Linked DNA regions of Homo sapiens: region 2 is linked to region 1. The links come from fine-mapping of genetic effects on gene expression. A gene starts in region 1. The other region holds a variant in brackets. All regions are shown on one strand. Distances are from middle to middle.

Region 1 (5,378 bases):
TAGATGGTTAGTCATCCCATCCCACCCCACCCTCTGAGAACTGCTGGGGAAAGGCACAATAAAGAAGTATTAGGTCGGTGCAAAAGTAATTGTGGGTTTTGCCATTATTTTCAATTCTGTAAGTTTTTTGAGAGCAGGGACCTTGTATGTCTTGTCACTGCTGTGCTCCCAGCACCTGGCTCAGTGAATCCTACCTGGCAGGTATTCAATACATATAAGATGAAATTGTTCTTGCCATTACTTTGAATGGCAAAAACCGCAATTACTTTGGCATGAACCTAATAAATTCACAAACTCATATATCGACATTGTGGTGGAGATGACCAGGCACTGTGACAGTGAAATAGATGTGGGGGCGCCGTTGGGGATCTTTAGGTTATTAGCACAGGCCCCTGTGAGGAGGTGGCACGTAGGCTGAAGGTCCTGGAGGATGAGCAGGTGTAGCCATGAGCATTCTGGGGATGAGGAACGGCATGTGTGAAGGCCCCACGGTGGGAGAGAGCCTCGTGGACTTAGAAAACACAGACAGAAGATGAGTGGGGCTGGAGATAAATTGGAGAGGCTGGCAGGGGCCAGACCGTGTGAGGCTTTAAGGGTCATGGGGAAGAACTCGGATTTTATTCTAAAGCCACTAAAGGGTTTTAAGAAGGGAAGCGATGCAATGACAATAATAATGAGGAATAGTTAACACTACTGAGAACTTGCTTAGATTTTAAGTGTGCAGTCTCTCTCTATGTATATGTAAACTCAGTCTATCATTATAACAAGCCTATGAGGTGATGAGGTATTTATACCCCCATTTTATAGATGAGGAAACAGAGAGCTTAAGAAACTTGACCAAAGTCACACAGCAAGTCAACTCTGGAACTAGGAGCTGCGTCATGCTTTTAAAAGGTCAGCCAGGTTTTATGGCAAACGGGTGATTGTAGGAGGGAAGAATGGGAGCAAGGAGGCTTTGAAATAATCCAGGTAAAGGATGATGATGTCCAGAATCAGACTTGAGTGAGGTGAGTGCAGCCCCAGCCTGGGATGCAAAATTTAAGGAGAAGTCTCAGTAATTACTGCACTCCAGCCTGGGCGACAGAGCGAGACTCCATCTCAGAAAAAAAAAAAAAAAAAAAGATAAGTAATATTGGCCTGGCATGGTGGCTCATGCCTGTAAGCCCAGCACTTTGGGAGGCTGACGCGGATGGATCACTTGAGGCCACGAGTTCGAGACCAGCCTAGCCAACATGGTGAAACCCTATCTCTACTAAAAATACAAAACAATTAGTTGGAAGTGGTGGCACTTGCCTGTAGTCCCAGCTACTCAGGAGGCTGAGGGGTGAGAATCACTCAAGCCTAGGAGGTGGAGGTTACAGTGTGTGAGCTGAGATCGTGCCACTGCACTACAGCCTGGGCGACAGAGCAAGACTGTCTCAAAAAAAAAAAAAAAGTAATATTCTAAACTAAAAACCAAGATAATGGAAAAATCCCATTATGAACAAAATATCAAAATTTTAATTAAAGACAGGATTGGTGTTACTGAAATTGCCTTTGCCTCAGGCTTCAGTATGGCTGGACCGGGCACTGGCTGGGACTAAGGTGGTGACAAGAAAGTGACCAAATTGGAGTAGACAGGCGAGGCCTGAGGTGGAGCAGGCGTGGGAGCTGGGGGAGGGCACCAAGGGGTTGAGCAGTCTCCCCTGTTGGTATCGAATATAACAATAATTCTTAGGCTCAGCAGAAGTTTAGCATCCATGTTCCCAGTCACCTGGACTTTTCCAAATCTTGGAACCCCCTCTGGCTGAAAAGGCTTTTGTTTGTTTAAACGGCCACTTTTTGCATCCAAGAGCACAAGTCAGCTTCCACTGGAAGGTTCTGAGAAACGGTTTCAGGTTTAAGTCTAGAGCATGAATGGAACGGAGTCACAGCTGAAAAAGAAACATGCCGAGTGCCAAGGAAAAGACATGGTTAAGGGGTAACATGGGCCCGGGTAGGTGAAGGTCGGCAGGTGGAGGCCGGCTGGATCAGGGAAGGTGAAAGAAGAGGCAGGGGCAGGGCCCAGCCTGTTTTAACGCCTCGGCGTTCTCACCGCTGCAGAACGGCTGCAGGGGGCAGAGTAAAGAGCTGCTGTCAGTTTCCCTGCCCAGAGAGTGCCAACAGCTGCTCTGACCTATTGCAGGCATGTGTGTTCCAGGATGCAGCCTTCCTGCACTTTGACCACTCTAGATTAATTGCTAACCAAGATATGCACATGATGGGGCTCACAAAGTATTAGGCGGTATTTTAACAACAAAAGCTGCGAAGAAATCCCTAGAAATGTTGGCTCTTCTGGCTGGGAAAACGCAGTCTGTCAACAGTTGCCTCAAAAACTCAGAAGCTCAGAGAGTTGGATTCGGTCACCAGAGAGGCCCCTCAAAGAGGCCCCAACCATTCAGATCCTCTGCTCTGTCCCCCATGACAGCGGGGACGAAGGTCCTAAGCCCTGGCCGGGAGGGCAGTTGACCTCGGGACTCGCCGCGGGGCGGAGCGGGTGCTGGGAGGAAGGAGGGCGTGGCTGGCGGGGTGTGGCTGGCGGGACGGGGCGGGGCGAAGACAGAGCGAGGCGGGGCCTGGGACGGGGGGGGGGTCGGTGTCGCCGTGGGGGCGTGGAATGTGGGGTGGGCGTGGCTAAAGGCAAAGGGCGGGGCGCGCGCGTCGGGAAGATGGCGCTACGTCTGCTGCGGAGGGCGGCGCGCGGAGCTGCGGCGGCGGCGCTGCTGAGGCTGTGAGTGCAGGTCCCCGTTCCCCGCCTTCCCGGCCCGGCTCGCCGCGGGTCGGCTCCTGTTGCAGCCCCGCGGGCCGGGCGCGGCCTCCCCAAGCCCTCACGGGAACCCAGCCGGACGGAAGCACCATGCGCCTCCCACGCGCTGGCTCGACCTCGTCCAAGGTCGCTGCCGCCCGCGCCTCCCTTTGGGAGGGCCCTCGTTGCACCCGGAAAATGGGTACACACCTTAGGTCGAATTACCTGGACTCAGCCCCAGGAAACAAAACTGCCTGCCTCCCCCAAATGGCAAACGTGAACGCGCCAGTCTTTGAGAGGCGGCTTGCCTGGTGAAGAACACCTGCGGTTCGTTTAACACAGCGGTTCCCAAACGGTTTGGTCTCAGGACCCGTTTACACGTCTAAAAATAATTTGAGGACCCCCCAAAGCTTTTGCTTATATCTATTGATTTTTGTGCATGAGGAATTAAACCAGAAATTTAAAAAATATTCACTTAATAACAAACCCATTAACTTTTAATACAAATAACACTTTAATGCATAACTTCTCAAAAAAAAAGTGAGAAGATTGGCTCATGGTTTTTATATTTTTGAAAATTTCTTTGGTTTAATAAAGGACAGCTGGAGTCTCATATCAGCTGTTTTGAAGGAAATATTTGAAAGAAATTCTGGGCTCATGCAGATGCAGATATTAGTTGGGAAAGGGAGGACCAAGCAGACCCTCTCAACGGGTCTCAGGGACCCCCTCAGGTGTCTTTGGACCACACTTTGAGAACCGCTGGTCTAGCACTTGCCCATCGCCTAGGTACGTGCACATACATGGTCTCATTTGGTTCCCTTGACCACCATGTGAAGAAGTTGGGTGTCATGTTTATAAAGATGAAAAAACAGGGTCAGAAAGGTTAAGGATTCTCAAAGCCCTATGACCAGTAATGAGAGAGTTTGGTTCAAACACTAAGTGTATGGCTCCTGGTCTGGAACTTCTTTATTTATTTATTTTTATTTTTTGAGACAGAGTCTCGGTCTGTCACCTAGGCTGTAGTACAGTGGTGTAATCTCGGCTTACTGCAACCTCCACCTCCTGGGTTCAAGCGATTCTCATGCCTCAGCCTCCTGAGTGGCTGGCATTACAGGTGTGCACCACCACCCCTGGCTAATTTTTGTATTTTTAGTAGAGACAGAGTTTCGCCATGTTGGCCAGGCTGTTCTCGAACTCCTGACCTCAAGGGGGTCCACCCGGATCAGCCTCCCAAAGTGCTGGGATTACAGGCGTGAGCCACCATGGCCGGCCTGGTGGTCTGGAACTTCTTTTTTTTTTTTTTTTTTTTTTTTTCCGAGATGGAGTTTCGCTTTTGTCGCCCAGGCTGGAGTGCAATGGCGCCATCTCAGCTGACTGCAACCTCCGCCTCCCGGATTCAAGTGATTCTCCTGCCGCAGCCTCCGGAGTAGTTGGGATTACAGGGCGTCCGCCACCATGCCCGGCTAATTTTTGTATTTTTAATAGAGACGAGGTTTCACCATGTTGGCCAGGCTGGTCTGGAGCTCCTGACCTCGGGTGATCCACCTGCCTCGGCCTCCCAAAGTGTTGGGATTAAAGGCGTGAGCCACCGTGCCCGGCCTGGGTCTGAACTTCTTACGTCTTCTTGCACTGTGACTCTTCAGTCACCCATGTCCTATGGGAGGACCCACCTAGTCTTATGCATCCCACTTTCCCATTTCCTCCGCTGCCCCTGGCACAGGGGAGTCACCCCTCGCCCTAGAGGAGCAGCTCAGGCAGTGTATCCAGGCTGGTCCAGAAGGGTCCTTTTCTGGCGCCTTTTGAGGGGGCCAGCGTCTGTGACCTGTTCAGTAGCGGGTCCAGTGAGCGCACACAGTCCCCACGCCAGTACGCTGGGGGTTAACTCAGTGCTCCTCACCCGCCTTAGCACACTGGTCTGTTCTCGACATGTCTACCCGCTGAATATAGGATTCTTGATTGGCATTTTTTTTCCTTTGAGCATTTTAAAGCGTATTATCGCACTGTCTTTTTGCCTCCATTATTCTAATGAGAATTCAGACGTTAATGTTATTAGGGTTCTATGTAAGTGATGAGTCTTTTTTTTTTTTTTTTTTTTTTTTTTTTTGCTTGATTTTCTCTTTGTCTTGGTCTTTCGGTGGTTTTATTATGATGTGTGTAGATCTGTTTGAGTTTATCCTCTTGGAAGTTTATTGAGTTTCTTGGATGTGTATACATCAAATTTGGGAAGTTTTTGGCTATTGTTCTCTCAAAAAAGTCTACTCTCTTATCTCTCTCTTCTCTTTCGGAGGCTCCCATTGCGTATATGTTGGTGTAGTTGATGGAACCCCACAGGTCTTTGAGACTGTTCCATTTTCTTTCTGTTCCTCAGGCTGGACAATGTCAATTGACCTGTCTTTGTTTTTTTTTTTTTTTTTTTTTTTTTTGAGACAGAGTCTTGCTCTGTCACCAGGCTGGAGTTCAGTGGCGCAATTTCTGCCCACTGCAACCTCTGACTCCCGGGTTCAAGCGATTCTCCTGCTCCAGCTTCCCGAGTAGTTGGGATTACAGGCACGCGCCACCACGTCCAGCTAATTTTTGTATTTTTAGTAGAGACGGGGTTTCACCATGTTGGCCA
Region 2 (5,378 bases), 270 kb after region 1:
CTAACCAAATTGCCGTGGTCCAGGAGCAGTTTTCTCCTTCCCCTGAAAAAATTAAGTGGGCTGAAGAACTGATTGCTGCCTTTAAAGAACATCAACAATTAGGAAAGGTAAATGTTTTGTTAATGCCTTGGGTGAGAGCAGTATTGAAAATATTGTCGGGAAGAATGAAACAAATATGTTGTGTGAATGGTTTAAGAAAACTCATCGTATCTGGAGAGGGGGGAAAGGGAGGGAACACAACATTCACCAGTGAGAAAATTGCTTGAGATAGATTTGCCCTGCCCATGTTCCTAAATACTTCACTAACTGGCTCTCAAGTCCCTCATTTTATTCTTTTCATAAAATATATTGGCAGCCTTAGAGAAAATAGAAGTCTGTTTAGTTTTTCTCTACAGACTTCTATGCAGCATTCATATGAAAATAATCCTAGATCAAAGTGAGAACAAGTTGTAATGAAATAAACACAGTTTGACTAAATGGTTCTTGTGGAGGAAAGAAATAAATTGCAAGTTATTTTAATTTGGGGGGAAAAAAGTACAGAAATCTCCTCCGGTTTAGTCATTTAAGAGTGGGAGGTTGTATATGTGTTTGTACCAATTTCTGGACCTGAGATTTGGATGGAATGGAAAGCAAATTAACACTGGAGTACGGTTGTTCCTAATTTAGTGCATCATTGAGCCTCGCGTTTCCTGCTCTGTGGGTTTCTGCTATGTAAATATTGCAGTGGTAATGCACAATCTGTCTCCACTTTGTGCCAGTAACACTTAAATTAGGTGTCGCCTGAAGGAAGATTTTATGCTAGTTGCAGCATTGTCAGTTAATTATCTTAAAGGTTATTTGCAATAATACCGTTTGCCTCTTTTTAAGAGGATAGGAGGGAAAGTTACATTTATAAATCTATCCTAGAGGTAATCTCTAAACTCAGCCTGTGACTTCCAGAAGGAGTAAAGTTTTGATACCTATAATGCAAAATTACTTAGGAGAAAGAATATTGAAAATTTATTACAGTTCTGAATATTAAACATTCCCCCCTGCAAAAAAAAAAAAAAAAGAAAAAGAAAAACTGGTTTTTAGTGGTGACCCTGAACCTGTGACATCCATGTGAGACATGTCCCTCGCACTTTTCACTGGCAGCAAGGACACCTGAAAATCCCAGGACTTGCCAAAGTGGGCAACAATATTAAATGGGTCATTCCCTAAGGATGTCCACATTCAACCCATGCACACATGGGCACACTCACACACCAGCAGGCTCATCTTTGTACAAACTCACACTTAATCTCCAAAGGCAGAATATATTACGTTGGAAATACCCAATTTGGACTTACACCAATTTCATGATAAATAGCATCTTTCCATTTCCCATCAACAGTGGCCATCAGAAAAGTAATGCATTTCATAGAAACAATATTTTAAGTTGACCTTGTGTTTAGTGTCCATTTTTGTGTCTTAACCCCAGATCAAGATTCCCATGAGTAAATCTATTCACCTAGAACGAAGAGCCACGGACTCTCATTCACATGTCCATCCATCCCCTTCCCTTGCATACCTGCCCACGCATACCCACACCGAATGCTCTATACCTCTGCTACAAGCCTTGTGCCAGCTGAGGACAGGCATGTCATAAACACCTCCTGGTGAAATAGGAAACTGAGGCAGCATGTGGACCATTGAAACGAGAGAGCAGAGTTCCAGTCTGGGCCAGCACTGTGTCTATGACCCATCCCAGCTGGGTTTCACATTGGGTAGCATCAAAGGAGGGCAGTTGGCATTGTAAGCAGATAGGGGTGTGGGAGAGTTTACCCTGAATTTCAGTAGCCAACAAACAGAAGTCAAACCAGAAACACTTGCTTTGCTCAGCATTTAAGTTTTTGAATGAGGAAAATGGCCCTTTTCCATTGTATCTTGAAAAGCGTTGTTCCCTGGGAAAACGCTCCCAAAGTTTTCACACCTTTTGATGATGGCAACTTAAATGTTCAATTCTGGA[CT/C]TTTTTTTTTTTTAAATAAGAAATGCCCTCTCGTTGGGGCATAAGCTCTCACAACAGTGTGGCAGGATGGCTTTTCTTAACACAGAACCATAGAAATTAGAGCAGAGGGGAGACTAACTATTAGGTAATTTCTTCCCTGCCCCATTTGTGGAGGTTTGTTTCCTATAGCAAATTCTCCTGGTGTTTTGTCCAGCAAGGTTGAAATGATTCAAGTAATGGGGCTTCCAGTAGGGACATATGGTTATTTTATCCAGTTAGCATGTTTCTTTCACTTTGCCTATAAACTGGCCGGTCACAGAAATTGGATCTGCAGGTAGGTGACTCTGGATCTTGAGGGGATCTTGGGGTTTAAATAATGTGGGTTCTGTTTGTAAAGATTTTGTGTAAATAGGTTGCACAATTATATAAAGTATTGCTTCCAACAAACATCTAGTCTGTTTTATGTCAAATGTGAATCACTGATGAACACGTGAACCCTCAGATATTTTGTCCAAAGCACAGATGACTCTCTCAAAGATAGGAAACTGATGGTTTGTGTCCTAGTGTGACAGTCACAAATTTCCAAAAGACCTTTTTCCTCCCTCTGATGAAAATTTCATTCAAGTAATGCTTTTAAGTAGAAATGACCCAAGAAGGAAAAATTATGTATCTTTGCTTTTCTGCACTTCTTCCTGCTCTCATCTTAAATTATATCCTGCCCAAACATAAAGGTATAGCTGAAGTTCACAGTTAGCCAAACATAAAGGTATAGCTGAAGTTCACAGTTAGTGCTGAGCCATTTGTGTTTTCTATAGTAATAATCATTACTATTATTCAAACATAAAAGCTCTACCCTTTCTTCCTGTCCTGTCCAAATGGCAAAATTCATGGGACTACTTAGACCATGAGCAGATAAATTATTGGAGTTCAGACTTTGGTATTACAGAATTTTGGGGATGTTTATTTTAATTAAAAGTCCTAAGGAAATAAAGTTTGGTGTCCTTGGTATAATGTTGGTTGACAATCACTTTACATTAAAACAAATAACAATCAGCTCATATCATCTGTCCCTGTTTGGCAGGCAGCGATTCTTGTGGCTGCTTTGTTTCAGGAAACTGAAAGATATTTTCAGGCTAAAAAATTTTGCTTGGCACCGTAGTCCAGTAATCAGAGTTAGGGCTAGAGACTGACACTGGGGACTCTAGGTTATCTTATCTTATTAAAATCTGTTGGAAAAAGTTTAAAGATTCCAAATAATCTCTGCTCCTATGTTAATTCCCAGAAACTAAAATGTTTTTAATTTAGCTGACATCAGCTGTAAGGTTTCCATCCACAATATTAATCAAACTGACTTTCTTCCATCCTTCCAGAAAAATGTTTTTTGAGATACAACGTGCATACCATTAATTATTTTAGTTTCAAATTATTTGGTAAAATGCTTTAGGCAGGATAAATCATTTCCACATGATTTGTTTTAAATTTATAAAGGATTTTCTTAAAAGTTAATTCCATTTTTATGTCTTTTTTTATAATAATGGTGATTCCATTAATATTTGAAAATTCTTCATTCAGAACTGAATTTAATATGCTTATTAAAGTAATAGGATTTCAACAGTTCTTTTTTATCAATAAAGAATTTTATATACTGTAAAAATTGGATACTTGAAAACATCTCAAGCAAATAATCATCTAATATTGATATCAATAGAAATAATTTTATATAAACACATATAGCATACATGTTTATACAACATATAAACATTCAAGTATGTATGATAACGTGTATTTCCTCAAATCTATATTATGAGCTTAGTGCTAAAGTTTTTATCTTTCCATATTCATCACTCTTAGGCAAAAATGACAGCTAAAGGAAACAGTCAGTTGCTTTTTTAAAACAGTCACTAATCACAGGAAATGTTAATATAGGAATTTACTATTTCTTTCCAAATGGAGACTCTAACAGAAGAATGCGAAGGAATAGCACAATATATTACGTGTGTCAAAATTTTAAAGATACTCTGCTAGAATATTCATATTTTGCAGTATCTGGCTACAAATATGGCTTTGCTTCATTTTCAGTTTTCCAGACATTCTCTTTGATTCATATCATGGCTGTACGTGCTTTGTTTGGTTTTGGAAGGATTTTGTTTGGCTTTTTCAATATTTCTCCTTCGTTATAGCTTCACAAGTTGGCTAAAGACTGAGGAAGGGGAAGTATTCATCTTTAAATTCTAGGTTCAATTAACAATTACAAATGTCAGAAACAAGATCACTACCTGGCCTAACAACTGTAAGCATCACGCAACCAACATTCTCATTTCACTCAGGAGAGAAAAACAGTGCAAGCTGATAAGTTCACATTAGTAAGCACATCTTCTGCTGGAATATAAACTGGAAACATCTCTTAATAAAGAAAGAAAAAGGAAAGTAAGAGTTTTTTTCCTTATGTAAGTCTCTTCATCTAGAAACTTTACAAACAGTAATACATCCCTCCTCCCAAAATATTGAAAGCCCATCATTTTCATAGGTGTCTGATTGCTGCTCGCACACCTTTCATTTCTGTTTCCAAATGCAAGGCTTTACAAAAGAAATATTGCTTGGTCCAGATGGCCTTCTAGAAGCCTCCCTGAGAGAACTCAGGAGAAGTTTCTCTAGCCAAAAATATTGTTTCCGCTTATTCAAGTGCCAGAAATCCCACTGCCACTCTTTCACGCAGATCAAATAAACCATCTAAAGACGTGGTTGTTGTCTTTGTCAACTGAAAGGGTTGATTCCACTATTAGACAACAGTGTATCCTCCCACACCCATCCAGCCCACGACCCACAGCCTTCCCTCTGGATTTATGAGCAGGAACACGAAAATCAGAGCTGAGAGGTTTGTAGTGAAAATGAAAGATAAAGGGACATAACTCTGTTTTAGAGATTCTTAGTAATTGCACTTTTCTCTTTATTTCCCTGCTCATTTAACATTTTCAGAAAGATCGGCCATAATTTTGATTTTTAAAAGTCCAGTTCTTAGAAAATCTGAGTCTGCCAATGATGACTTTAAGATTGGATGGATTAACACAAAATTGCGAAATTTTAAACATTTAAAGCAAAGTAATGAATTGCTACAAAGTATTGAAATCATATCATATTCTATTTCACTTTTTTTTTTTTTTTTTTTTTTAGTGGCAAATGGCTGGTTTGGTATTAGAAGATAAGAGTGTTTTTAATAGGCCGGGTGCAGTGGTTCACACCTGTAATCCCAGCACTTTGAGAGGCCGAGGTGGGCAGATCACAAGGTCAGGAGTTTGAGACCAGCCTTGCCAACATAGTAAAACCCCGTCTCTACCAAAAATACAAAAAATCAGCTGGGTGTGGTAGCGGGTGACTGTAATCCCAGCTACTTGAGAGGCTGAGGCAGGAGAA

What was found. PIP is the estimated chance that this variant, and not a neighbour inherited with it, causes the effect. A credible set is the group of variants that fine-mapping cannot tell apart.
Region 2: its variant is the best candidate, but not a certain one, in a credible set for the expression of CLYBL in whole blood (INTERVAL, PIP 0.79).

The regions. Positions count from the first base shown.
Region 1 is chr13:99,604,009-99,609,386 of GRCh38, forward strand. CLYBL (citramalyl-CoA lyase) reads left to right here and starts at 2,682. Exons shown (of 9, transcript NM_206808.5): 1 at 2,682-2,749. The coding sequence starts at 2,688. It overlaps LOC105370332 (a long non-coding RNA gene), which reads right to left and starts at 1,841. Exons shown (of 3, transcript XR_931674.3): 1 at 1,754-1,841. RefSeq lists enhancers at 1,545-2,524, 2,447-2,741 and a silencer at 2,463-3,022.
Region 2 is chr13:99,870,956-99,876,333 of GRCh38, forward strand. It overlaps CLYBL (citramalyl-CoA lyase), which reads left to right. Exons shown (of 9, transcript NM_206808.5): 7 at 1-107. All of the region lies in intron 1 of CLYBL-AS3 (CLYBL antisense RNA 3), which reads right to left. Among named protein-coding and RNA genes, the nearest start is that of CLYBL-AS3, 84 kb to the right of the region's middle. The variant CT/C (reference allele first, on the strand shown) is at 1,988.